Homo sapiens: one gene and its partners. The protein of the gene in region 1 interacts with the protein of each later gene in a pairwise test. Each region holds a gene or a part of one and is shown in the gene's direction. Other genes may lie near its edges.

Evidence for each region.
Region 2: the proteins of DLST (region 1) and MYBPHL interact in binary tests that used the Homo sapiens proteins (3 or more experiments, as listed by UniProt).
Region 3: the proteins of DLST (region 1) and GJA5 interact in binary tests that used the Homo sapiens proteins (3 or more experiments, as listed by UniProt).
Region 4: the proteins of DLST (region 1) and TRNAU1AP interact in binary tests that used the Homo sapiens proteins (3 or more experiments, as listed by UniProt).

Annotation. Positions count from the first base shown.
Region 1 is NC_000014.9:74,877,910-74,884,920, forward strand, and holds the start of DLST (dihydrolipoyllysine-residue succinyltransferase component of 2-oxoglutarate dehydrogenase complex, mitochondrial isoform 1 precursor), read left to right. Parts: upstream 1-4,006; 5' UTR 4,007-4,044; coding exon 4,045-4,107; intron 4,108-4,681; coding exon 4,682-4,715; intron 4,716-7,011. UniProt on the Homo sapiens protein: Dihydrolipoamide succinyltransferase (E2) component of the 2-oxoglutarate dehydrogenase complex. The 2-oxoglutarate dehydrogenase complex catalyzes the overall conversion of 2-oxoglutarate to succinyl-CoA and CO(2).
Region 2 is NC_000001.11:109,297,007-109,304,030, reverse strand, and holds part of MYBPHL (myosin-binding protein H-like), read left to right. Parts: intron 1-5,773; coding exon 5,774-5,862; intron 5,863-6,413; coding exon 6,414-6,609; intron 6,610-6,841; coding exon 6,842-6,981; intron 6,982-7,024. UniProt on the Homo sapiens protein: Myosin-binding protein which plays a role in cardiac function. Seems to regulate conduction in the atria and ventricular conduction systems.
Region 3 is NC_000001.11:147,757,599-147,764,854, reverse strand, and holds the start of GJA5 (gap junction alpha-5 protein), read left to right. Parts: upstream 1-4,252; 5' UTR 4,253-4,356; intron 4,357-5,583; 5' UTR 5,584-5,616; coding exon 5,617-6,693; 3' UTR 6,694-7,256.
Region 4 is NC_000001.11:28,548,723-28,556,097, forward strand, and holds the start of TRNAU1AP (tRNA selenocysteine 1-associated protein 1), read left to right. Parts: upstream 1-4,362; 5' UTR 4,363-4,388; coding exon 4,389-4,415; intron 4,416-4,917; coding exon 4,918-5,015; intron 5,016-7,375. UniProt on the Homo sapiens protein: Involved in the early steps of selenocysteine biosynthesis and tRNA(Sec) charging to the later steps resulting in the cotranslational incorporation of selenocysteine into selenoproteins. Stabilizes the SECISBP2, EEFSEC and tRNA(Sec) complex.

The DNA of each region.
Region 1 (7,011 bases):
AACACAGGCAAAAATGTGTATAGAACATAAGCATATTGAAGCTATAATGAAAACAAGGGGATGGTTAATATATAATTCAGTATAGTAGTGGCTAACTGGGTGTGATGATGGAGGAGACCACAGGGAACTTTTCCATTCCTTCAGCTGGGCAGCAAGTATGGGAATTCCTTTTATTATTTTTCTTTTAAACTGGACACATAGATTTTTATATCCTTTTTAATACGTATTTTACAATGAAAATGTTTTTAAAAATTATCTTTTGGGCCGGGTACAGTGGATCACGCCTGTAAGCCCAACACTTTGGGAGGCCAAGGTGGAGGGGTCACTACGTCAAGAGATCGAGACCATCCTGGCCGACATGGTGAAACCCTGTCTCTATTAAAAATACAGAAATTAGCCGGGCATGGTGGTGGGCGCCTGTAGTCCCAGCTACTCATGAGGCTGAGGCAGGAGAATCGCTTGAACCCAGGAGGCAGAGGTTGCAGTGAGCCAAGATCATGCCACTGCACTCCAGCCTGGCAACAGAGTGAGATTCCACTCAAAAAAAAAAAAAAAATTCTCTTTTGAGCCCTGCCACAATTTATATTCATAAACTCTTGCCCCAGTAGATGGTGCTGTGTCTTGGGAAGCTCTAAATGAAGGAGTGCCCTAGCTTATTGGGTTGCAGCTTGGAGTCCATGGAAGCTCGTATGTGAATCTCGAGGAAATCAATTTCAACTTTTACCCTCTCAATGGGATTTTGTATGAAACCATGCTCGAGTGTGTGTGTGTGTGTGTGTGTGTGTGTGTGTGTGGTGTCTTTAGACTGTAATATCTAAGATTAACTTGGGTGATCACTAAAACTCCAGAAGTGCTTTGCCACATTATAACCAGGCTTGAAGTCTTGAAGCCTCTACATCTTTTTTTTTTTGAGACGGAGTCTAGCTCTGTCACCCAGGCTGGAGTGCAGTGACATGATCTCAGCTCACTGCAAGCTCTACCTCCCGGGTTCACGCCATTCTCCTGCCTCAGCCTCCCTAGTAGCTGGGACTACAGGCACCCGCCACCAGGCCCGGCTAATTTTTTGTATTTTTAGTAGAGACGGGGTTTCACCGTGTTAACCAGGATGGTCTTGATCTCTTGACCTCGTGATCCGCCTGCCTCAGCCTCCTAAAATGCTGGGATTACAGGCGTGAGCCACCGTGCCCAGCCTGAAGCCTCTACACCTTCTATAAGAATCTCAAAAATTGTTAAAGACTGTGAAAGCCTGTAATCCCAGCACTTTGGGAGGCCAAGGCAGGCGGATCATGAGGTCAAGATTTTGAGACCATCCTGGCCAACACCCTGTCTCTACTAAAAATACAGTGACACCCTGTCTGACACCCCGTCTCTACTAAAAATACAGAAATTAGCTGGGCATGGTGGCACGCACCTGCAGTCCCAGCTACTCGGGAGGCTGGGGCAGGAGAATCACTTGAACCCGAGTGGCAGAGGTTGCAGTGAGCCAAGATGAGATCATGCCACTGCACTCCAGCCTGGGCAGCTGAGCAAGACTCTATCTCAAAAAAAAAAAAAAAAAAAAAAAAAAAAAAAGACCGTGAAAGGACTGGGTAGCTATCTAAGAAAAATATTAACAGCAACACTGGCAAGAAATTGCCATAGCCCCTGACTACCGTTCTTGGATTCTTCAGCTGTGTCCACCAATGTTGTAAACATGGAAGTATTTAGTCATTCCACAAATATTTATTGAGTACCTACAGAGTCCCAGGAACTCTGATGTCCCAGGTGTTGTGTTTGGAAAATTCAGGAAAATAGAGAGTGGTCTCTTTCCACCTGCTGCTCTATGCAGCATGGGAGACAGACAGGTAAACAGGACATTACAATAAAATGCAATGTAGAAACCCAGACACAGTGCTTTGGAAGCATAGAAAATGTATCTGTTAACTCTGCCAGAGGGGTTAGGAAGGGATTAAGAAGGAGATTTAAAGGATGACTAGGAGTTCCTAGGCAAATAGGAGGAGGAAACAGCCCATGCAAATAGCTCAGCAAGGCTATGGCCAGTAGTGTGGTTTGACTAAAGCTCACAATCTGTGAGAATGTGGGGAGAGAATCAGAACATAATCAGAGGCCTGATTATCAGGTGCCTGGCCAAGTTGAGGAGTTTGTACTTTATCCTACAAGGGAGATAAACTTTATCTCCCTTGCTTTATCCGACCAGGAGAAGCAATGAAAGACTTTAATCAGAGGAGTGACAGGATTAGGTTTGCATTTCAGAAGGATTTCTTTTTTTTCTTTACTTTCTTTTTTTTTTTTTTTTTGAGACGAAGTCTCACTCTGTTGCTCAGGCTGGAGTGCAGTGGTGCAATCTTGGCTCACTGCAACCTCCATCTCCTGGGTTCAAGCAATTCTCTTGCCTCAGCCTCCCGAGTAGCTGGGATTACAGGCATTCACTACCACACCCAGCTAATTTCTGTATTTTTAGTAGAGATGGGGTTTCACCATGTTGGCCAGGCTGGTCTTGAACTCCTGATCTCAAGTGATCCACCCACCTCATCCTCCCAAAGTGATGGGATTACAGGCGTGAGCTACCACACCAGGCTCAGAAGGATCTTTGACACAGATATAAAGGATGATGGGCTAGAGAAAGCGAGAGCGGAGGCTTAGAACTGCTTAGGGAGCTTTTCAAATAATTCAGGTGAAAGCTACTGAGGAGTTAATTGTGGGTAGCAGCAGGGCAGAGCTGTTTTCTCTATTTCTAGTTAGGACTTTGGCCCATCCTTCCAGAATTTCAGTGGCAGTGCTTTCAGGGTTCAGGTGAGTGAAGGCACTGTAAAGGTCCTGATGGAATTTGAGGCCAGCCTGGGCAACATAGTGAGACCCCGTCTCAATTTATATTAAAACATAAATTAATTAGAAAAATAAAAAATAAAGGTCCTGAGGGCCAGGCAAAATGCCTCAGATAAAGAAATCATCATGAACGGCACCAAGTGGTTCATTCATTCATTCATACATTTATGTGTTACTAATTCAGCCAGAGGTTTAAAGCACATCTTTTTCATTAGGAAGGTGAGCCTTAAAGGTGAATACTCAAGGGGCCTGAATACTTAAGGAGGGGAAGGGGATGCTATATGCTTTCACTTCAAGTCAGCGGGAAGAATGGCACACTCAAAGTGGGGAGGTCAGCCTGGCATGGTGGCACCTGTAGTCCCAGCTACTCCAGAGGCTGAGGCAGAGGGATCGCTTGAGCCCAGAGTGTCGAGGCTCCAGTGAACTATGACCTTGTTTCTTAAAAAAACAGCTGGGAGTTTATATTCTAGGGATAGGGTGACAAACGAACAACTTCCAAAATGCACAAGATGTATGGGGAACAATTAGTTTGGCTGGAATTTGCGTTGGGGGGAGATCAGAAGCTGTTGAGAAATAAGGCTATAGTTGGTGAAGATATCCGACTCGTAAAAAGGCAATGGGATTTAGAAATTCCTGGGATTCTGTTTCTTTGACTCGGGGTTAGGAAGACAGGGAAGTAACAAGTGCCTTTTTTTTTTTTTTTAATAGTTAAGGGACCTGAGACTGGGGGTGGGGGGCAATGTCATCTGCCCCAGGCCACACAAGTGTAAGATCAGGCATGCATGTCTGCCAAGGTTTCAGTTCAATGTCCGTGCCCCTCTTTTGCTCTCTTCCCAAGGTACAGAGGCGGAACGGCGCGGTGCCCTCGGGTCCCAAGAGAGAAGGGCGCCAAGCTCAGAGCCAGTTCTGTGGAAGGGTAGGGGAAGGCCTGACCCCGGGGGCAATGTGGTGGCGGGACAGTCGTATACACCTTCAGGAGAACCACCTCAGGCTGACAGGCAGTGCGGAGGGCCCCAAGAGCGCCTTAGGGTTGCCTGCTCCAGAGAGCGGGACTCCTGCGCTGCAGCCGGGATACTGGGCGCCGCCGTGCGCCCACCCCCTGCCAGTGGTTCGCTCCGAACACCCCTCGTCGGGCGGCGGGTACTGCGGCCCGCCCCACTTCCGGTTGTTGTCCGGCCCTATATCCGGTGTCCGCCCGCCCTCGGCTCCTCCGCCGTGATGCTGTCCCGATCCCGCTGTGTGTCTCGGGCGTTCAGCCGCTCGCTCTCCGCCTTCCAGAAGGTACGGTCTGGCCGAGCCGGGGCCCCGACGGGTGAGGAGTCTGTTGGCGGGCAGAGAGGCGGCCTGGAAGGCAGGGGCGCGGCGCGCCGGCCGGGCCGGGCACCAAGGGCACTGGGACGCGGAGGCCGCGCGGGCTGGGCGGCCCGGGGCCGTGGTTGCCCTCGGGACCGTTTTGCGGAGCCCAGCGGCCCCCTGCCTTCTCCAGGCAGCCTGCGGGGAACGTTTCCTGCTGTACCCCACCCTCCGCGCGGGAGCTGGGGAGCCGCGCCCGTCCAGATACTTGACTCAGAGTTAGGGAGGAGGCGCGGCGGAGTCCTCCGGCGGGATTCGGCGCCCGTCTCGTCTTGCTCTGTTAAAATCAGTGGGTATTAATGAGTCCCGTTGGGAAGTTGAGATAGTTTGGCAGGCCCAGCGTGTTGATTGGGTCTGCCAGCACGGTGTGTTGCATTTACCTTCGGAGTTACGAGATTCACCTGTCACCACCACTGGGACAGCTTTGAGCGTGTACTTAAAAGAAAAAGCTGGGTTTTTTTTTCATCTTGGGTGACGTCGATAATGTCTTCTTTCTCAACAGGGGAACTGCCCTCTAGGGAGACGTTCCCTGCCTGGTAAGTTCTGCCCTTACCGTCACCTAAAATGCTCTCCTCCTGGGCAGAGCAGTATGTGAGGAACTCGGGGGTGCCTGTGTTTCTCATAATATTTAAAGACAGTTTGGTTCAGAGAGTAGTGAGACGCAATGCTACATAATCACGAGCTATCGCTTATTCATTTAGCTCGTAGTTGAGTTTCTACTGTGTTAGGCACTGTGCTAGACGCTAGGGATACAGGAGTGGATACAGAAGTGTACAGTTCTTGCCCTCGTGGAGCTCCTAGGCTAGTTGGATAGTGTCAGTTGCTAAACAAGCCAACAAAGGCAAATTTTTGTAACTGCTGAGAAGGAAACGAGGGTGGACAGAAGAGCCCTTTTTGAGGAGGTGACTTAAAAGTTATGGCCATGGCCGGGCGCGGTGGCTGACGCCTGTAATCCCAGCACTCTGGGAGGCTGAGGCGGGCGGATCACGAGGTCAGGAGATCGAGACCATCCTGGTTAACACGGTGAAACCCCATCTCTACTAAAAAATACAAAAAATTAGCCGGGCGTGGTGGCAGGCGCCTGTAGTCCCAGCTCCTCGGGAGGCTGAGGCACGAGAATGGCGTGAAGCCGGGAGGCGGAGCTTGCAGTGAGCCGAGTTCGCGCCACTGCACTCCAGCCTGGGCGACAGAGCGAGACTCCATCTCAAAAAAAAAAAAAAAAAAAAGTTATGGCTAGCAGAATGTGACGGAGCTAACCCAGTGAAGCCCAGGAGAAAGAGAATGGCATTCACAAAGACCCTGAGGAAGAAAAGAGGTTGGCAGAACTTAAGAGCTGGAAAAAAGGTGATTTGGCCGGAGTATTTTGGTTAAGGGAGAGAGTGGCAAGAGATAGAAGATGGTATAGAGACTGAAGGAGTTTAGATTTTATCCTAGCAGTTAAAAAGAAAAAAGTGTCATCCATAGCTTTTTTTCTGTTATATGCCTAGCCTAAGTATTTGTTGAATGAGTTGACCTTGTTGTGGGCTTTCTTTGTGCCAAGCATTTATATGAGTGCTTTCTGTGAATTTTTTAGTTAATCATCTCAAAACAGTAAAAAGTATTTTCTCTATTTTACAAATGCATAACCCAAGACAAGAGAGCTTAAAAGCCTTGGCCATGGTCACCCACCCAGCTGTTGATAAGCCAGGTCTACCTGACCCATCCTGAACTCTTAACCCACCATGTTCTCATTTACTCATGGACTCAACAGATCATTTATTGAGTGCTTACTATATGCCAGCCACTGTTCTAGGTAACAGGGGTATAGATAGACTCTAGCCTCGAGATTTTATGGGCTAGCTGGAGAGAGAGAGCAAATATACATTTATGCTCCGACAAGGGCATAAATTTTGGTTACTACGAGAGAGGAATTAAAGGGTGTGATGAGAGGGTGGGATGATGTAGACCAGCTTGGGAAGGTTGGGAATGTCAGTAAAGGCTTCCCTGAAGAAGTGACATTTAACTGAGACCTGAATATAAAAGAGCCAAGAAAATGTATTCCAGGCAAAGGGAATTGCTTGTGCAAAGGTTTTCAGACAGGAAAGGACTTGACCAGTGATAGACATGGGAAGAAGCCTGTCTGGCAGGAAAGATAGAGTGGGCTGGACGGTACAGGATCGCGTAAAGTGTGGACTTTATCCTGAGAGTTATGAGAACATAAAGCCCCTAGCACAATGTCGGCTTGTAGTGGACTCTCAATAACAAACATGTTTTTCAAGTGGGAACCCTGAACAATGTCAGTAAACATTTTCTCCACTTCATAGGTGGGCAGGACAATGGAAAGAGCCTTGCACTTGGGGATTTGCATTTGGGCTCAGGGATTCACCTTGGGCTAGTCGCTTAACCTCCAAAAGTCCTACTTATATGAAATGGGAATAATGGCAGATGGTCGTTCCACTTCAGAGAGTTGTGAGACTGTAAAATCAAAATGAGGTCATTATGGGAAAGCTTTTTATAAACCCTAAAGCACTGTACAAATGAAATTTGCTGTAGGATGAACTCTGAATTGGACTCCAGGTTCCCAAAATCAGTGTGAGCCGCCATCTATTCTAGTTCAAAAACATACTATGCTTAGAATTTGCACTGCATAGTCATTGGCTGCTGGACATAAAGGTGACTGGCTTACCTATCTTGGGATGCTTGTGAGGAGGTGGGCATAAGAGAGGGCTAGCTCTCATTTGGTGTGTCCTGAGCCCATGGTTCAGAAAGAGTTGTTAATCTGAAAGAAAAAAGACATAAGAAAGAATTCAGAAGAGGCAGCTGTAGTTACTAGTCATCAGTTGGGGAAATGCA
Region 2 (7,024 bases), on another chromosome or scaffold:
AATATTCAGTGAGGGTCTCACTAATAAGGTGACATTTGAGCAGCAACTTAAAGGATGTGAGAAAGCAATGCATGCAGATATTTGGGGGAATATTTTCCACACAGAGAGAACAACTGCAAGGACCCTGAGGCAGGAGTGTGCTTTATGGGTTGGGGCCATTGTGGCTGTAGCACAGGGAGGGAGACAGTGGCAGTATTTCAGTCTGAGAGGTAGCACGGCCGCTGTGAAGACTTTGGTTTGTCTACGAGACAGCCAGCCAGCCAGTGCAGGGACTGGGAGTAAGGACTGACAGGACCAAGTGTAGATTTTAAGGATTTTTCCAGCTGGCCATGTTAAGAATAGACTGTAGGTGGGCCTTAGACACTAGCAAGATCGACAACTGGGAATGAGAATGAGGGAGAAGGTAGGGAGGTTTTAGAAGAGAAAGGTGTGCGATAGTCACCCAGGACAATGGGAGACCGAGTGAACTTGGGAAGTCTAGTAGAATTGCCAGAGTTCACTTGGAGGTGGTGGTCACTATTAATGGCCCTCAAGTTAAACTCCATATAATTTTGTATTTTCCCCCAGTCCTGTTACTCTGTGCAGATACAGCCACTGAGTGGGTGGGAAGTTTATTTAACAAGGGTTAGGTATTGCCAAGAGAGTGCAATGAAGTCAAAGAGGACTCAGGGATTTGAGTGAGTGCAAGAGAGAGAGTATAATAATGACCGTGCAATCTAAGTTGGGTGGTGAAGAAAGTGCTAACATGAAAGGGGTGCTAGGTAGTGAGAGGGTGGTAGGACAATGGATCACAGATCTCAGTGGTGCCAAAGAATTGCTGGTGTTGGAGCACTGGAGGAAGTGAGCTAAAGGGATAAAGATTATATTAGTTAGGTATACTAGTGAATGAAACAGGTCTCAGGAATGACATACATCTATTTCTCACTAGCGTAAGAACTAAAAACTATTCTGCAGATAGTTCTCCTCCATGTGGTAATCCAAGGACCCAGGCCTCTTTCATCTTGGGGCTCTGCCATTCCTTAGGGCCCGTGATCATCTGTGTACAGCTAGCAGAAGAGGAAAATAGAAATCTAACTTCTTCAAAGCCTGGGACCAGATGTGATTCTCACCATTGCCACTTACGTCTCATTGGCAAAAACTGGTCGCGTAGCCATCCAGCAAAAGGTGGCCGGGCAGCCACTTCTCAGAGATAGCTACGCTACGGAAGGGGTAACATACATTTTTTTTGGCCAGTTAGCCATCTCTGTTATAGAGGTGGTGATGAGACAGTGGGATGCTTGTAATTCTGATCATAGAAGGATTGTAGCTCTTGGTCTAGAGAATGGCCACAGGGACCATTGGCTGAATTAGGAGAGGACAAAGTTATTGGAGGAGTGGTGGGCCAGATGTGAGAGACCCTACGGGGACTGGAAACATGGGTGTTGGGACCAGCAGGAGTTATGCCTGGAGAGGCATACCGCATGGAGAGGGTGTTGGAGAGACAGTGAGCCAGGGCTAAAACCATCAAGCACTAGGGGGACGACTGTAACATAGGGACGGGGTGGGGTGGAGTCTTTTCCTCAGAGAAGTGTTGCCTGTTCCTATGTCCTTTTATTTTTTCTGACCTTAGTTTCATGGCCTTCAAGAAAGTGACACTCTTGTACCACTCCTTTCCCATTGCACTCCTCCAGACAGGTTTCTGAGTAGACCAAGGCCACATCCTAGGCATCTGGTAATGTTTCTCTAAGAAATCCCGGTACTTCTTGGATTTCTGGAAACCTCTGGATAGTTTCAAAGCCATAGCTAGCCTCCTGCATTCGCCCTCTTTTGGTAACCCTTCACCCACATAGGCACGTGTGTATGCAGGCTCCCTCTCTCTCTCACACACACACTCTCATACACACACATACACACACCATTCACAGACACACGTAAACACACCCATACACACATTCATGCACGTACACAAACACACACATTCACACACATACACTCACACACACATACATACACACTCATACAAACACACACACACCCTCTCCACTTCTCCAATGCTTCCATCTTGGTTCTTGGCTCTCCAGGTCATAGTTAGTAACATCGGTCTGAACTATACAGCCCCTAGGGAGCCTCTGGAGAAAGACTGATCCCATAAAAGGGAATTATGAGAGGATAGGAACAATTATAGAATAGTAAAACAGGCATAAACTTTAGCAGGATAAAAGTAGGGTAGGTATTAGGAGGAATTTTCTAATCAGAAGTCAAGATCTTTGGACTTGAAGTAGTTTTCTCTCTTTTTTTTTTTTTCTTTTTGAGATGAAGTTTTGTTCTTATTGCCCAGGCTGGAGCGCAATGGTGCAATCTCGGCTCACTGCAACCTCTGCCTCCCAGGTTCAAGCGATTTTCCTGCCTCAGCCTCCCAAGTAGCTGGGATTACAGGTGCCCGCCACCACACCTGGCTAATTTTTGTATGTTTAGTAGAGATGGGGTTTCACCATGTTGACCAGGCTGGTCTTGAACTTCTGACCTCAGGTGATCCACCCTCCTTAGCCTCCCAAAGTGCTGGGATTACAGGCATGAGCCACTGCGCCCGGCCTGAAGTAGTTTTCTCTAAGAATTTTTTAGAAAGAATTAAACAGCATCCTGTCTGAGAGAAACATTGTACAGAGAGAGCCTAACTCAGAACCAAAGGCCCTCAAAGGACTTTTCAAGATGCCTTTTCTCTAAGACCCCATGAAGGGAGAAAACCAAACTGTGACTCTCACAGACCTGCTCTTAGAAAACCTAGGCTCTTAAAGACTCTAGGCTTTGGTTCACATCCCTCCTGTCATCTAAGGAGGAGAAAGACCTTGGGCATCAGGGGAAGCCATGCCTCCCCAAGGTCAGTACAATTTACACCTCGCTTGACTGCGGATGTGTGAAAAGAGATGCCTCAAATGAGCCCCGGCGTTCACATTCTTAGCAAAGAGTCAGATTGCGCCTGGGTTGGGTTGAGAGGCGATTGGAGAGCATGCTGCTGACCTGCTGACTGGGCATCTGAAGCTGCCACACTCTCTCCTGCCACCTCTGCACGTAGTCAGCTGAGTTAGCCTCACGTCCATACTCTGCCCTCCCACAGGGAGCCGGGAGCCTGCTGGGAGCAGAGGCCTCACCTACACATCCTCAGAGTCCATTCTAGAGACTTAAGTTTCGTCATCTTGTCAGGAAACCCACTGATAAGCAGAGAACCGGCAATGGAGCCGTCCAGGGAGGGAGAGACTGCCGTCCTCGCGGGCAGCCTCCTTCCTTGCTCTCGCGGGCAGCCTCCTTCCTTGCTCTCTGCCCAGCCAGGATCCCCTCTAGATCCAAGGGCCAGTCTGCTCCTCTTCCTCTAACTCCCACACCTTAGCTTATGTTCCACATAAACCCATTTCTTTCATTTTTCTCTTTAGTTCAGGTGTAAGAATGCTAACATTTTCCCAGGTGTTTTTCTAAGAAACAAAAGAAACACTAGGTGGAAACACATACATCAGCTCACAGCTACCCATAACAGCCCATTCCCTACCTGAGGTCTCAGCAGGGCGGGGCTCAGCGGGCACTTCTGTCAGGCATGAAGGCCTGGGTTCCTCTCCCCACCTCAACCCTTTGCAGTTCTTGGGTATGTCTAGCCCCCGCCTTCCCTCTGGGCCTCCTCCCTCCAGGGGCAGGCCACTGTCCAAGCCCTGACTATGGTGCTCATTGCTGGGTGGACACTGGTGGGCAAGACACAGCTAGTGCTCTGAGAATGGGTCCTTCAGACACACAATCTTAGATGGGGAGGCAGGAGTCTCTGGTGCCAGGCACGTCGTCACAGCTAGCCGGGAGGTCTCCAGAATACCGGCTTCTTTCTCGGAGCCCTCTTGCTCCCAGCATCCTTGTTCTGGTGCTTACAGGCCCTTCCTAATGCCGACATTCTGTAGGCAGGCGGCACAGGGACAGCAGAGCCAGCTTCTCTCCAGCCCTCTCCCCAGCAAATGTAGAAAGGGTTATTTCCTCCCCCAACAGTGGGGAACCAAGCCTGACAAGATGAGGTTTTGACCCTCCTTTCCAAGTACGGCCCTCTTTTTCAAAACACTATTAAGTCATATCCGCCCGTCTTCAACTCTTTGGTTGCTTGCCAAGATGGCCACAGGAGAGAAGCCCATCACACAAACGCTTCTTCTGTTCTTCATGTCCCGCCCCTCCCAAGCCACCAGAGCCCAGCCGAGGGCAGCCACAGCAGGGTCACTCAGCCGCCTGCAGCTGCTGCATCTATGCTGAGGCAGTCAAGACCTGAGCAGGGCAGGGAGGACGGGCACTCAGGCCCATCAAGTCCCCTCGTCACATATTCCTGAGGTGCAGTCTAAGACAGGCACAGCCCAGGTGAAAACATAAGCCACACAGCACAGAAGGAAACTGCAGAAACCAAACGGACCGTGTGCACTGTACATTGCCATTGATCTTCATTTGCAAAGGTCTCGCGACCTTGAGATTATCATGGGGAGACTCAGAGTGAAGTTCTCTGGACAATGCTTGCTGATTGAGCTGGAGGAAGGACACAGAAGAAGCTCTGTTTCAGTTGCGTCACTTACATGTTTGTGTTATGTAATGTATGTATTTAAACAGTTCATCTATAAGTAAACATACATATGTCATAGTGAATGCTCAGGGAAGTATTTTCACAGAAGTGTGTGCTATCAAAGAGTCTGGAATCCACTATCGAGCAGTCATGCTGTTTGCCACAGGAATGTACCAGGGGTGAAGTTCTTCCAACTGCCAAGAATGAACTGTGGCAAGAATCCTGGGTTGTTGGGAACTGAAGCACTATCACATTCTACTGAAGATAATATCAGCCAGGCGACTGCCTGTGCCTGAGAAAGGAGGAGACAGCAGCCAGGAAAAGGCCAGAAAATGGTGTCTGTCTCAGCCAGGCCCCCGAGGGAACGCAGGTGGAATGTTTGTGCTTCGGCAGCTGAGACAGTGTGAGGCATCCCAAGAGGAGAGAAATGATACCTGGTCAATCTCCAAACCTACACTCAGCACTTTTCCAAGCATTTCCTGTCTTCATCCTGGAAGCCCATACACATCATCTAATCTCTACTTCTCACTGGGACAGACCTGTGAGATCAAAGGGAAATGAGTGGTGGACCTAATCTGTCCCAGAATCTGTACAAAATGATCCTCTGCAAACTGGAAGAAGACTGTGCAGGCGCCCGGGAGCAGAGTGGCCATGCAGAGGAAGGGACCCAGACACGTGCTCTGTCTGCAGTGACATCAGTGTTGTCTCCGTGGGCGGCTGGGAGGTCAGGGTGTTGACTCTGCCTGCAGAATGGAGAGCATTCTCCTGAGACCCACACCTAACTGGGAGGTCAGGATTGACATGGAAAGTGGCCTTGATAAAAGGAATGGTATTAAGGACAAATGTAGAAAAGGGTGGAAAGACAAACCACACAGACCAGGCTGGTCTGTACACAAACAGAAAAATAAAAATGCCTCCATCAGGATGGAATGCCTCCAGATGATGGAAAGTCAGTACTTGAGAGTTACAAATTAAGAGAACTGTCAGACTCGCACTCCAGTGTTCCTTCTGCTGAGACTTTAATGTTTCCCGGGGTGTTCCTTAAGCCAACCCCTCATCCCCAAATCCCAGCAGGATGATGGGAGCACTCTTCCCCTCCCCTCTAAGAAGGGCTTAATTTGGTGACCGATTCCTGGGCCACTCACCCACAGCAGGCAGCTGGATGCAGGATTTACTTTCTCTGAGTATCCATCTCCTATTCTCTCTCTTTCCATCACTCAGAGCACCCCAAGATCTGGCTACCTCGGGCCCTGAGGCAGACCTACATCCGGAAGGTTGGGGACACAGTGAACCTACTAATCCCATTCCAGGTGATCATGCCAGCCCCATACTGGGTCCATGTCTGGGGCCAGTGCAGGTTTTGGATTTGGAAACAGATACCAAGAGTCCTGCTAGCAGAGGGGCAATCTTCCCAGCCTTGGATAGAAGGGGTCACACCACCAGAAGTCTGAGGCCAAATGACCTCTGCACTCCTGAAGGTGGGTTTGGATAGGACTGGGTGTGCACCCATGAGATGGTGTGAGGCTAATCCATGCCCTTCAGTCTACAGAAGCCTCAGAGCTTGCAGTTAGAAGGGTTCTTGGGAGTTTGAGTGGCTATTCAATTGGTCCCAGCTGCCCCGGGTGTTCATGACCTAAGCTCTCAGAGATTGGGAGACTCAAAGCCATCCCTCTTTCCCAAGATCCTTAGGCTGTTGCTGAAAGGAGGAGGCCCCCGGGAGGGTCCACCAACTTCTAACTCAAGGAATGTGCAGCTCCAAGTCAAGCCTCCCTGTGGACCTGGGGTGGACAGGACCCCTACAGCAGCAGGGAGAGTCAGGAAGCCTCTCGGGGCTGCTCAAAGCATTACCCTCATTCCTCAGGGCAAGCCCAAACCTCAAGCCATCTGGACACATGATGGCTGTGCCTTGGACACCAGGCGTGTGAGTGTGCGGAATGGGGAGCAAGACTCCATCCTCTTCATCCGAGAAGCCCAACGTGCTGACTCAGGTCGCTACCAACTCCGCGTGCAGCTGGGTGGGCTGGAGGCCACCGCCACCATTGACATCCTGGTGATTGGTACGGTGGGGGAAGTGGGAGATGGGGGGGTCCTCAGGAACTCCCTCTCCAGGCTGAAGAGGAGCCAGCTCAGAGAGCTGGGGAAGCTGCGGCAAGGCTCCCACGTCATGTCTGGGACACAGGGTGGGCGCAGGAGGGGTAACTGAGGAGAAAAAGGGGCTAGGGCACTCCTGAAGTGACTTCAATGCATGTGGGATGTTCCACGCCCACTGCCATGGCTTTGCCCTTTCAGAGAGGCCAGGCCCTCCTCAGAGTATTAAGCTGGTGGACGTTTGGGGCTTCAGCGCTACACTGGAATGGACACCGCCCCAAGATACGGGGAATACAGCACTTCTGGGATACACGGTGCAGAAGGCTGACACAAAATCCGGGGTGAGGCCAGCTGGGAAGGAAGGAGGGTGGAAGAGGGCATGTT
Region 3 (7,256 bases), on another chromosome or scaffold:
GACTTTATTAATTTTTTTTTTTTTTTTTTTTGAGACGGAGTCTCACTCTGTTGCCTAGGCTGGAGTGCACTGACGTGATCTCAGCTCATTGCAACCTCCACCGCCCGGATTCAAGCAACTCTCCTGCCTCAGCCTCCTGAGTAGCTGGGATTACAGGTGCCCACCACCACACTGGGCTAATTTTTGAATTTTATTAGAGATGGGGTTTCACCATGTTGGCCAGGCTGGTCTTAAACTCCTGACCTCAGATGATCTGCCCGCCTCGGCCTTCCAAAGTGCTGGAATTACAGGCATGAGCTACCACACCCGGCCGATTTTATTAATTTAATAGACACCATTGAGTGCCCAGTGTGTGTCAGGCCTTGCACCTCTTTGGTACTGTTCTCATTACTCAGAACAGTGGTAGGCACATAAAGGGGACTCAGCAAAGTATCTGCAGGTTGGCTGATAGACAAATGTTTGGAAAACAAGTCTAAGGAAATATATAACCAAGTGTGAGGATGTATCCTCCATGCTGGATGGTAATTAAAATTGCTACCATGTACCAGATGCTCAGTCTTCTGGAGTTCAGGGGACACCAAAGAGGGCTGAGGTCAATTTTAGAAGACTTATCCATTTTGCTGTAGATTTGCGGAGTCAGAGGAAGAGGTTCTGGCTATGAGTTTATGATTAATCTGGGTTGCTCTGAAATGATTTTCTTTGAAAAACACTGGCCGTGTAGGGGGACCACGAGAAGGAGCACTGGGCCGGGCATGGTGGGTCATGCCTGTAATCCCAGCACTTTGGGAGGCCAAGGCGGGAGGATCAACTGAGGTCAGGAATTTGAGACCAGCCTGGCCAACATGGTGAAACCCCTTCTCTACTAAAAATACAAAAACTAACCAGGTGTGGTGGCACACACCTGTAATCCCAGCTACTCCAGAGGCTAAGGCAGGGAGAATTGCTTGAAACTGGGAGGCAGAGGTTGCAGTGAGCTGAGATGGTGCCACTGCACTCCAGCCTGGGTGACAAAGCGAGACTTCATCTCAAAAAAGAAAAAAAGAAGCACTGGATTCAGAATGTAGGTGCCTGAGCTTTATTTCTGGTCATTGGCCATACAGTACATGAAATAAAATCATAAAATGATTCATGCTCACTATACACAAAATCCTTCCTCTGGCCCTCTTCCTCTTATCTAAGCACCATGTTGCTATTGCCAAACAAGTTTCCTAGTGGCCCCTCCAAAATTTGCTTTATCTCAGGATAGGACAAGTTGAAAGAGGATGTTGAAGGTTTGGGAGTGAAGAACCTTTAGAGTTGGGATGGTTCTCTTCCAGGTTCTAGGGACCATCTCTTTTTGCCTTGCTGATTTCAGAACTTGTATCAGTGGCAGAGGGCTTTAGAACGCAATTCCCTAGGACTCTCCCCAAAACCCAAAAACCAGATTCAGGCTCCTGCCCCACATTCCCATGACACCTTATACTTCCTTTATGTTAACACACATTGTGTTTTACTGAAATCATGTATTTAATGTCTGCTGTTAATAAAGGGGTATAAAGGCAGTTACACTCAGTGAAGTCAGGGAATCCCTTGTTTGTTTCCCCTCCTTCCTGCTGTATCCTCATTGTCCAGAATGATGGCTGGCACCCTGTAGCCACTCAATAAACGTATTAAATGAATTTTAAAAAGGACATTCTAGGCAGAGGGAACATAAGAAGCCAAGATAAATGGGTGAGAAATGGTGAGATGCACATAAGTACATGTGAAATTGTGTAGCTTAAGTATTGAGTGTGTGAGTGGAAAAGTGGAAAAATGATAGCATAAGACTGTACAGGGTTTCACATGGCAAGTTAAGCAGTTTGGACTTTCTAAGTGGTAGGAAGCCAGTGAGGATAACTGCTAAAGCAGTGAGGTAAATTGCCATTGTGTTTGATAGCATTTATTCATGGCATGGGCAGCTTCCTTTGCCCCTCCTAATACACTTCCTGCCAAGAAGCAGATAATAATCTACAAAGTATTTTATATGCTATACGCCCAGTAAACTCACTGAGTATCTAATCTACAAATTTCTTTGGCTGAGATGGGGTATCCAAAGGGAGCCAACGTAGCTGGAAAAGTAACTACAGCCAGAGACCTTTCACATTATAAACTGAGCATCTGGTACATGGTAGCTATTTTAAGTTTCTCTGACCTTGCCTGAGCGTCAGCAGGAAGTCATACATGAAAAACCCTTCACCCTATTTCCTCTGCCTGGGCCCAGGAGGTCTGCCTCACCCCTATACCTCCTCAGATAGTTTCTCTTTTTCCCTCCCAATAAGATATCCTTCCTAATACTGCCTTTCTGGTTTTCCAAGGTGTTCCTTTCTTGTATCTGTGCTTTACCTCTTCCAGGTGGAATTCCTTGGACAGCAGTGAAGGAGTCAGCAGTCAAGCCTCTTGGCAGACTAGACCAAAGGGTCACATTCTTTGCCTGGAACTATTTTTATACTTCCTTGGGGACTTGCAAGGAATGAGTGACAGAGTGAGAAGATCAAGGGAGAAGTCTTCAGGGACTGAGTGTGGAAAACTTGCCCCAAATCCTGGAAGAATATGACATTTGTTTCTTTTTTTTTCTATTTCCATTTTCCTCTCATTTCCTCCCCTTCTACTCTTGCTCCCATTTCTTTTCTCCTTTGTAATGCACCTTTCTCTACTTTCTGCTTTCTCTTTTTCCCTCCTTCTTCTACTCTCATCCTTCCCCACTGCTCTTGTTGCTAGTAATGGCTACCTTTTATTCAGTTCTTATTTGCTGAACACTGTGTTAAGTGCTTTGCACGCATCATCTCATAGCACTCTATGAGTTAATAGTATGTCCATTTTGCAGGTGAGGAAAGTGGAACACAGATTGAATCATTTATCTAAGCCCAGCAGATGGTAATAGAAATTTGTCAAACCTCAGTAAGCTAACTCCTGCATCTGTCTTTTCTTAACCCTACATGGTCTTTTTCTCCATTTCCAACTCTCCCTTGTCCTTCCCTTTTCTTCTCTTCTTTTTATTCCTCCCCTTCTCTCCCTCCCTCTTTTTCTCAGACATTTACCATAGTTCAGTCACTGCACGTGTGTGGCTGACCCTGAAGGTGCTGAACACTGTACATGTGCCCAGAAGAGAGGACAGACAATTCAAACTCTTATCTAATCAGCCATTTTCCTTTTGAGCACATGCTCCACAATTTTCCACATTTGGAGGCTGAAAGAGGGGGCGCTTCGCCACCTAAGGAAATGGGGCAGATGTCTGATCACAAATGACAGGAAAGGCCTCAAGACCTGCATGGGTCTTTGATATAGAGAGGAGCAGAGATAAGATGCTTTCCGCTCACTCAGGAACTCCCTCATTCCCAGGGACACTGTATACTCTCAAGTTTGGGGACCTGGGGTCTGAGAGAATACAGGGCCAGGAGGTTGGTCCCTGTCAAGGCAACAATCAACTCAAGAGCTGAGGAAGCCTGGACTATGAAATGCACCACCCTGACCCCATCTTTCCCCATAAGCATGAAGAATGTTCAGACAGAAACCAGGAGCACGTTGGCAGCAAAGATATGACGGTCAAAGTTTGAATTTGACAAACCTCTAAGGACCCACCCAAATCTGAGGTTTATGATTCTAAGAAAGGAATATTTATGCTCCATTCCCTCCGAGACGTTTGTCATCCTGTTGGTTAGGAATGGTTAGAGGCTTAAACTGTAAGAACATTCGTTATTCACTAAGTAAGAATTCTGGAGGTAGGGAGCCTCAAGAGTTGCTTCAGAGGCCTCAGGGCACTGGTTGACATTTCTGAGATTCTCTGGACAGCTTTAGACATCTTGGTTCATACAACTCTGTCCACAGGCAGGAAGCGGTGGGGCTAAGTGAGGCTCACTCCTATTCACCGGGGGATGGGAGCACTGTGAGTAGTCTCCCTCCTGTTCACCAGGGGATGGGAGCACTGTGAGTGAGGTTCCCTCTTGTTCACAGGGGGATGGGAGCACTGTGAGTGAGGCTCTCTCCATTTACTGGGGGGTAGAAAAACCTTTTCTGGAGCATTCCCTCTACTTTAGATTCTCCCCATACCTCACCTACCAGAACTAACTGCAGAGGAGATTAAGAAAGTGATACCTGGCTTTTTCACCCTGCCAATGGGAGGCAGGCAAGAAACAGGGAATTGGTTTTCTATTGGGTAGGAAACAACAGTGCCTGTCAGCCCCTCCTTCATTCACTCAACTAAGATATATTAAACACCTACTCTGGGCCAGGCTCTGGTGATACAGAAGAAAAGACAGTCTCCATTTTCAAACAGTCCCTCCTGGGAGAACACAGACAGGCAGAGGATTACAACACAAGGCAGCAAGCACTGGGAGACGAGTAAGTGTCCCGGGGGCCATCACAGGAGCTGAAGAGGCTCAGCTTGAGGGAGGAGGGAGGGCTGGAGGAGGCAATGACTGGGTTAAGTTTTGAAAGGTAAATGGGATTCAGCTAGGGGTGAGGGGACATGTAGGGGTACAGAAGGAGGGCATTTGGGAAGACTTGGCATGGCTGGACAAAAGGAACTCATGTGGACAGGCAGGAACAGGCTGGAAAAGCAGACAAAGGCCAGATGAGGGAGGATTTTGTAAGGGACATAAAGTTTTGGGACATTTATTCTGGACATAAGGGTGGGCAGATCTGTGTGTGGGAACCTTATTTAAATGAGACACAGAAACTTAGCAGCAGGGCGAGCTGAGCTGTGTGGCTGGAATGGCTGTGTTGCACCGAGGCATGGGAGATCAACATTGCCTTACCAGCCAGGGGAAGTGAGCACTCATCTGTGATACTGTTAGCTGGTGTGACCAAAGCACACTTTTTGTTTGCCACCTCCCAACACAGCTGGTCCATGCTGGATGGTTCTGATTTTTGCAGAGTGCTTCCTGAGGGGCCAAATTTGCCAATCCCATCCTCACTCTTTCCTCCTCCACCTAGTTCTGCCCTCTGGAGCCATAAAAAAATTCCTTTTCCATCCAACAGCCATTTAAACATTTGGAACAGTTGTGGAATGATTTTCAGAATATCACACACCTCATATCATTTAATCCTCAGAATTCTCTGGTGTAGCTATTCCCATCCCCATTCGATAAATGAAGAAACAGACTCAGTGAGGTAAATGCCCAGAGTCACATTTGCAGACCCCAGTCTTGTGTTCTTTTTAATACTCGTGTTTCTCCAGGTGCGGTCCCTCACCGCCTGCATCAGAATTACTTGGGCTGCTTGTTGTAAATCCAGATTCCTGGGGGCCATCCCAGACCTCCTGAAGTAGAATTACTGGGGCAAGAGCAGAATCCATATTGTAACACACACCACGATTTCTAGATCCGTTAAAGTGTGGGAGCCATGCTCTAATTTTGCTAATATGGCTACTTTGAATCTTCTCTTTCTTTTTATTTTTGCTGGGAAAGGAGAGCGAGCTTTTCGTTGGTTGCTTTGACTTCTAAGTTGCATTTTCTTAAAGAACCCATTGGATGGATGGATCAGTGGAATCCCAGAACATGATAGACATTCCAGACCTTCACAGAACATCCTTCTTCTTTTCTCTCTTTCTCTCTCTCCCATTTGCAGAAGTTTTGGCATCTGTTCCCTGGCTGTGCCAAGATGGGCGATTGGAGCTTCCTGGGAAATTTCCTGGAGGAAGTACACAAGCACTCGACCGTGGTAGGCAAGGTCTGGCTCACTGTCCTCTTCATATTCCGTATGCTCGTGCTGGGCACAGCTGCTGAGTCTTCCTGGGGGGATGAGCAGGCTGATTTCCGGTGTGATACGATTCAGCCTGGCTGCCAGAATGTCTGCTACGACCAGGCTTTCCCCATCTCCCACATTCGCTACTGGGTGCTGCAGATCATCTTCGTCTCCACGCCCTCTCTGGTGTACATGGGCCACGCCATGCACACTGTGCGCATGCAGGAGAAGCGCAAGCTACGGGAGGCCGAGAGGGCCAAAGAGGTCCGGGGCTCTGGCTCTTACGAGTACCCGGTGGCAGAGAAGGCAGAACTGTCCTGCTGGGAGGAAGGGAATGGAAGGATTGCCCTCCAGGGCACTCTGCTCAACACCTATGTGTGCAGCATCCTGATCCGCACCACCATGGAGGTGGGCTTCATTGTGGGCCAGTACTTCATCTACGGAATCTTCCTGACCACCCTGCATGTCTGCCGCAGGAGTCCCTGTCCCCACCCGGTCAACTGTTACGTATCCCGGCCCACAGAGAAGAATGTCTTCATTGTCTTTATGCTGGCTGTGGCTGCACTGTCCCTCCTCCTTAGCCTGGCTGAACTCTACCACCTGGGCTGGAAGAAGATCAGACAGCGATTTGTCAAACCGCGGCAGCACATGGCTAAGTGCCAGCTTTCTGGCCCCTCTGTGGGCATAGTCCAGAGCTGCACACCACCCCCCGACTTTAATCAGTGCCTGGAGAATGGCCCTGGGGGAAAATTCTTCAATCCCTTCAGCAATAATATGGCCTCCCAACAAAACACAGACAACCTGGTCACCGAGCAAGTACGAGGTCAGGAGCAGACTCCTGGGGAAGGTTTCATCCAGGTTCGTTATGGCCAGAAGCCTGAGGTGCCCAATGGAGTCTCACCAGGTCACCGCCTTCCCCATGGCTATCATAGTGACAAGCGACGTCTTAGTAAGGCCAGCAGCAAGGCAAGGTCAGATGACCTATCAGTGTGACCCTCCTTTATGGGAGGATCAGGACCAGGTGGGAACAAAGGAGGCTCAGAGAGGAAAGACGTGTCCCTTCTGAACTGATGCTTTCTCACTGTCATCACTGCTTGGCTCCTTTGAGCCCCGGGTCTCAATGACGTTGCTCATTAATTCTAGAAACTATAACCAGGGCTCTGGGATAGTAAGAGAGGTGACAACCCACCCAGACTGCAGTTCCCTCCCCACCCTCTACCCAGTATACGAAGCCTTTCAGATTACTCATGAAACAGGGTAGAGGGAAAGAAGGGAAGCATGGCAAAAGCTGGCCTGGAAGGGATAGCCAGAGGGATAGAATGACTCTCTCTCTACATACCAGCAGCATACCAAATGCGTTCTCTAAGTTCCTACCTCCTTGACCTGATCACCCTCCCTCCTCCAAGGAAGAGCTCAAAGTTCCCAGCCAATAGACAGCATGAATCAAGGAACTTGCATTATATGTGCTCTTGAATCTGTTGTCTCCATGGACCATTCCTCGGAGTAGTGGTGAGATGGCCTTGGGTTGCCCTTGGCTTCTCCTCCCTCTACTCAGC
Region 4 (7,375 bases), on another chromosome or scaffold:
TAAGTTGAGGATGTATAGACTGGTAGGAAAGGACTTTGGGTGCCCATTAGTCCAGAGGGAGCCCCAGAAAGTGGCCTTAAAACACTTGGAGTGGGTTTCACTGTCAGAGATGCCAATTACTACATACAGAAGAAGCTTTCCATACTGACGACTGGGCACCAAAGTAAGTCAGAGGCCTGGGATACTCCCAGAGTAGGAGCATCTCAAAATTAAACTGTCTGGATTGTCTAGCCATCTAAATTGTGTTTATGACGGCACACTGTGGGCAGGTCACTGTTCTGGGACTAGTCAGAACTCCAGGTGATTTGGAGTAGGGTAGTGGGACTCAAGAAAATAGAGGCCGGGAGCTGTGGCTCACACCTGTAATCCTAGCACTTTGGGAGGCCCAAACAGGTGGTTCACCTGAGGTCAAGAGTTCAAGACCAGCCTGGCCAACATGGTGAAACCCCATCTCTACTAAAAATACAAAAATTAGCTGGGCGTGGTGGCGCCAGCCTGTAATCCTAGCTACTTGGGAGGCTGAGGCAGGAGGATCGCTTGAACCCAGGAGGCAAAGGTTGCAGTGACCAGGATAGCACCACTGCACACCAGCCTGGGCAACAGGAGCAAAACTTCATCTCAAAAATAAATAAATAAATAAATAAAAATAGAGTGACAGAACTTGGGGACTGATTGGTTGCCAGATGACAAGGTTACTCCAATTTACACTCCTTTTAATTCTTCCCACCTCCCACCCCAGGGCCCTATATGGGAATGAAGGAAGAATCCCATTCCGGCTCCAACAAGACTCATGTTTTTCAGACTGGTAAACCTGGAGTGAGGGAATGGCTTGCACAGAGCAGTGGCTTGCCCTGGGTCACAGTGAGACAGTAAGAACAGGGCTTGGCTTCAGCTCACCAAGACTAGAGCAGCAGTTCCCAACCTTTTTTGGCACCAGGGACTGGTTTTGTGGAAGACAATTTCCACGGACAGGGGATGGTTTGGGGATTACTCAAGCGCATTACATTTATTGTGCACTTTATTATTATTAATGTAACGTTGTAATATATAATGAAATGATTATATAACTCACCATAATGTAGAATCAGTGGGAGCCCTGAGCTTGTTTTCCTGCAACTAGACAGTCCCCTCTGGGGTTGTTGGGAGACAGTGACAGATCATCAGGTATTAGATTCTCATAAGGATGCCAGGCATGGTGGCTGACGCCTGTAATCTCAACACTTGGAAAGGCTGAGGCAGATGGATCACCTGAGGACAGGAGTTTGAGACCAGCCTGGCCAACATGGCAAAACCCCGTCTCTATTAAAAATACAAAAAAATTGGTGGGCGTGGTGGCTCACGCCTGTAATGCCAGCACTTTGGGAGGCTGAGGTGGGTGGATCACGAGGTCAGGAGATTGAGATCATCCTGGCTAATACGGTGAAACCCCGTCTCTACTAAAAATACAAAAAAACTAGCCAGGCATGGTAGTGGGCGCCTGTAGTCCCAGCTACTTGGGAGGCTGAGGCAGGAGACTGGCATGAACCTGGGAGGCGGAGCTTGCAGTGAGCTGAGATCACACCACTGCACTCCAGCCAGGGCGAGAGCGAGACTCTGTCTCAAAAGAAAAAACAAAAACCCACACCACCATACCCACTAACTCTGAGGCTTTAGTCATATAAAGAAAAATAGCCATTATATATTGTTCTTTTGTGCTCTTATAATGTGTAACCATGCCCTTTAATTAAAGAATTCCAGGATCTACAAAAAAAAAAGAAAGCAGAAAAAAGAAGCCAGGCGTGGTGGCTCACGCCTGTAATCCCAGCACTTTGGGAGGCCACAGTGGGGGGATCATGAGGTCAGGAGTTCTAGACCAGCCTGGCCAACATAGTGAAACCCTGCCTCTTCTAAAAATAAAAAAAAAAAAAAAAAAAAAAAAAAACTAGCCAGGCATGGTGGCAGGTGGCTGTAATCCGTCTCAAACAAAAAAAAAAAAAAAAAAAAAAAAAGAAAGAAAAGAAAAAAGAGGCTGGGCGCTGTGGCTCACACCTATAATCCCAGCACTTTGGGAGGCCAAGGCAGGAGGATCGCTTGAGCCTAGGAGTCCAAAATGAGCTTGGCCAACATAGTGAGCTCTCCTCTCTGCAAAAAAAAAAAAATTAGCCAGCTGTGGGGGTGCACACCTGTAGTGCCAGCTACTCTGGAGGCTGAGGCAGGAGGATCACTTGAGTCCGGGAGTTTGAGGCTGCAATAAGCCAAGATTGTGCCAATGCGCTCCAGCCTGGGCGACAGAGAGAGACCCTCTCTCAGAATGACTGACCAACTGAATAAATAAATAAATAAATAAAATAAAAATAATTCTAGGATCTGGCCTTAGGAGATCCAAATTATCCAACCAAGGTTGTGGAATGTCTCATCTCAGGAAGAAATGCTGAAAACTTCATTTACAGCCTTGTTGCTGACAGCCAAACTACCAGGTAGCCCAGTACTAAAGATAATCATTGGCTGGGCGCGATGGGTGGCTCACGCCTGTAATCCCAGCACTTTGGGAGGCCGAGGTGGGTGGATCACCTCAGGTCAGGAGTTCGAGACCAGCCTGACCAACATGGTGAAACCCCGTCTCTACTGAAAATACAAAAATTAGCTGTGCCTGGTGGTGGGCGCCTGTAATCCCAGCTACTCAGGAGGTGAAGCAGGAGAATAGCTAGAACCCAGGAGGCTAGATTCTAGCTATTCTGAGCCGAGATTGTGCCATTGCACTCCAGCCTGGGCGACAAAGGAAGACTCCGTCTCAAAAAAAAAAAAAAAGATAATCATTACAACAGGATATGCTGACCTTCATACCCCACCCTCATGAGCTTTGTCCTGCCCAGCCTGTAAACCCTACACTTGATATCACTTTCCGTGCTTTGCCCAATAAAACATCTCAACCAGCTCTTTTCGGAGAGTCAGGGAATTCTCGCTCTCTTGTGCTGCCTCCCTTATACCCAGGCATAAGCTCCAATGAAGACTTGTCTGGGAAAACTTTTTTGGCCTCATGTTAATTTCTGTTGGATTGAGAGCCTAAGAACCCCTGGTAACAATAGGGAGGTAGTGGAACCGGGTTGTCCGGAGGGATATTTTCACTTTTTTGGATGCACTTGTATCTGCAGTTTTTTACAACGAGCATATATTAATGTTGTAATTATGTGTGTGTTTGTGTGTGTGTGTACGTGTGTATGTTTTTTGTTTTTTGTTTTTTTTTTAATTTGAGACAGAGTCTCACTCTGTCGCCCAGGCTGGAGTGCAGTGGCGCGATCTCGGCTCACTGCAGCCTCTGCCTCCCGGGTTCAAGTGATTATCCTGTCTCAGCCACCTGAGTAGCTGGGACTACAAGTGCACACCATCATACCCGGCTAATTTCTGTATTTTTAGTAGAGACGGGGTTTCACCATGTTGGCCAGGATGGTCTCGATCTCCTGACCTCGTGATCTGCCCACCTCGGCCTCCCAAAGTGTTGGGATTACAGGCGTGAGCCACCGCGCCCGGCCTTGTTTGTTTTCTAAATATGTAAAGTCAGAAATTAACCCAAGTAACGAGCATACATATATATGTGTGTGTGTGTGTGTATATATGTATATATATGTGTATGTGTGTATATATGTGTATATGTGTATTATGTGTGTATATGTGTATATATGTGTATATATATGTGTATGTGTGTGTGTGTGTGTATGTATATATATGGAGTCTTGCTCTGTCACCAGGCTGCGGTGCAATGGCGCTATCTCGGCTCACTGCAACTTCTGCCCCCTGGGTTTAAGCGATTCTCCTGCCTCAGTCTCCCGAGTAGCTGCGACTACCAGCGCTCGCCACCACGCCCGCTAATTTTCGTACTTTTAGTAGAGAGGGGGTTTCCCCCTGTTGGCGAGGATGGTCTCGATTTCTTCACCTCGTGATCCGCCCGCCTCGGCCTCCTCAAGTGCTGGGATTACAGGCGTGAGCCACCGTGCCCAGCCCTAACGAGCATATATTAATGTTGTAATTATATGTGTCTGTGTGTGTGTGGTTTTGTTTTCTATATAAAGTCAGACGAGTGTGTGTGTGTAGTTTTGTTTGTTTTCTAAATATATAAAGTCAGAAATAAACCCAAGTAACCCAGCCGCCTGGGCCAGGTGGTATCTGGCCCGCCCCATTCCAGCCTGAACTCCGCCCACCGCGATCCGGAAGCCTAGCGCCCAGTGGGTTGCAGGAAAAACCCGGAGCTGAACACACTGCCCGACCCGGGCCGCTGCGCTCGGGAGCCTGCGCAGAAGCCGTCGGAGGCGCATGCTCTGTAGCGGTCTCCGCAGCCAGGATTGGCGCCCGCGCGGGCCTTCGAGCCCCGCCCGCAGAGCCCCGCCCGCAAAGCCCCACCCCGGTGCGCGGGTATGGCGGCCAGCCTGTGGATGGGCGACGTGAGTGAGGGCAGCCGTCCGGGGTCTGAAGACAAGGAAGCATCTCGGTTTCGCGAGAGAGGAAGGATCTGAGTGGGAGGGGACTTGGGATCCCAGAAAGGGGAGACGTGTGACGGGGGTTCTTTTTGGTGACACAGAAGCGGGTTCCAGCATCTAAGTGAAGAGGCTGAGTCCGTGAGGCTAGGGGTCCTGGGGCCCCACCTGGGTTCGTGGGAGGGAAAGGTGGTGCTTTGGGGACATAGAATGGGAGCAATCCAAGGACTGAGGCGCGCTGTTCTGGGACCGGAGGAGTGGGGTTTCTAGGTCCAAGGGGAGGCTCCCTAAAGCGGGGCAAGCTTGAACCAAAAGAGCTGGGGTTTCAGGCCGCTCAGTGGAGGCGAACCTCGCCCCTCGCTCCCCCAGCGGCGCGTAGCCAGCCCTGGGCTGAACGGGAGGGGCTCTGGAACCCGGAGTGGGAAGCCCGGCCGCCGGCCTGAGCCGCTGTGCTCTTGTTTTTACGCAGCTGGAACCCTACATGGATGAGAACTTCATCTCCAGAGCCTTTGCCACCATGGGGGAGACCGTAATGAGCGTCAAAATTATCCGAAACCGCCTCACTGGGTAAGTCTCATCTCAGGTCTCTCTTAATACATCTCGTTGCAGCTGTCATGTACGAGAATGTAAACATCGTAGTCATGGCTTCTCACTACCCCTAGTAATAGTCACTGTAAAATTATAACAGCTAACATTTTGAGGTCCCAATGAGTGGAAGGATGGCATGTAGCTTAAGGGTAGGACTTGCCAGGCGTTGTGACTCACACCTGTAATCCCAGCACTTTGGGAGGCTGAGGTGGGTGGATCACCTGAGGTCAGGAGTTTGAGACCAGCCTGGCCAACATGGTGAAACCCCGTCTCTACTAAAAATACAAAAATTAGCCGGGTGTGGTGGCAGGCACCTGTAACCCCAGCTACTCCGGAGGCTGAGGCATGAGAATCACTTGAACCCGGGAGGCGAAGGTTGCAGTGAGCTGAGATCGTGCCACTGTACTTCAGCTTGGACAACAAGAGCAAAACAATGTCTCAAAAAAAAAAAAAACAAAAAAACAAAAAACGCAGGACTCAAGCGAGACTGGGTTTGAAAGCTATTTCTACTCTATGACCTTGGGTAAGTTACTTAACTGCTCTGTCTCATTCACTTTGAGTATAAAAATGGAAATAACAGCACCTACCTCCTAGAGTTATGGTGAGGATTAAATGAGTTAATTCACATTCATCATTAGGACAGTGTATGGCATATAGCATATGCTCAGTAAGTATAGTCAGATTACGATCTGCTGAGTAATAAGCAGTTTACATCCATTATCTCCTTAAAACCTCAGAAACTTCTGAGGTAGGTAAATACTATTATGAAGAGGCTTAATAACTTGAAGAGTTACAATAAATAGCCGGGCGCAGTGGCTCTCGCCTGTAATCCTAGCACTTTGGGAGGCCGAGGCAGGCCGGATCACGAGGTCAGGAGATTGAGACCATCCTGGCTAACACGGTGAAACCCCATCTCTACTAAAAATACAAAAAAAATTAGCTGGGCATGGTGGCGGGCACTTGTAGTCTCAGCTACTTGGGGGGCTGAGGCAGGAGAATGGCGTGAACCCAGGAGGCGGAGCTTGCAGTGAGCCGAGATCGCTCCACTCCACTCCAGCCTGGGCGACAGCTGAGACTCTGTCTCAAAAAAAAAAAAAAAGAGTTATAATAAATAACAAGTCAGGACTTGAATTCGAGTCTATCCTGAAAGCTCATGAGGGCCCTTAACTCTTATGCCATTCATTTAAAAAATTGTGGAGGATGGGTGCGGTGCCTCATGCCTGTAATCCCAGCACTTCGGGAGGCGAGAAGGGTGGATCACCTGAGGTCAGGAGTTGGAGACCAGCCTGACCAACATGGAGAAACCCTGTCTCTACCAAAAATTAGCCAGGCGTGGTGGTGCATGCCTGTAATCCCAGCTACCTGGGAGGCTGAGGCAGGAGAATCGCTTGAACTTGGGAGGCAGAGGTTGTAGTGAGCCGAGATCGCGCCATTGCACTCCAGCCTGGGCAATAAGAGCGAAACTCCATCTCAAAAAAAAAAAAAAAATTATCTGTGGAGATACTACTGTGTTCTACTGTTATACATTCCTGGCTGAAATAATCCAGATATAGCCCCTGCTCATGGAGTTTACTACATTCTAGTGGGGAATGAGACAATAAATAAGTAAACATAACCAAATGCGTATTTTCAGATAGAGGTTCTCTATTGCCTCCATGTTCTTCTTTCTCTTTGAGGTCTTAGTTTTCCTTAGGGAATTATCAATTTGTCAGTGTTTATCAAGCAGCTACTCTTTTCCTTTTTTTTTTTTTTTTGAGACGGAGTCTCGCTCTGTCACTACCCAGGTTGGAGTGCAGTGGCGCGATCTTGGCTCACTGAAAGCTCCGCCTCCTGGGTTCACGCCATTCTCCAAGCAGCCACTCTTTTCTCGGTACTCTACTACATGTGGCTTGCTAAAACATCAAATGGTTTAAAAATAGAGATGAGACATTTGAAAGATACTTTGTGTATTCAGAACCCCATTACCTAGGAAAAGGTTTTTCTGACTGGTAGATCGTGCCCACCTAAATATTTCTCTTCTTGCTCTTCTAAGCAGAAAACCCCAGATAATCAGCTACTGGTATGAAAATTCATTCTGTAACCTTTCTCATTTTTTTTTCTTTTTTTTTTTTTTGAGACGGAGTCTTGCTCTGTGGCCCAGGCTGGTGTGCAGTGGCACGATCTCGGCTCACTGCAAGCTCCACCTCCTGGGTTCAAGCCATTCTCCTGCCTCAGCCTCCCAAGTAGCTGGGACTACAGGCGCCCGCCACCACGCCAGGCTAATTTTTTGTATTTTTAGTAGAGATGGGGTTTCACCATGTTAGCCAGATGGTCTCAATCTCATGACCTCGTGATCCGCC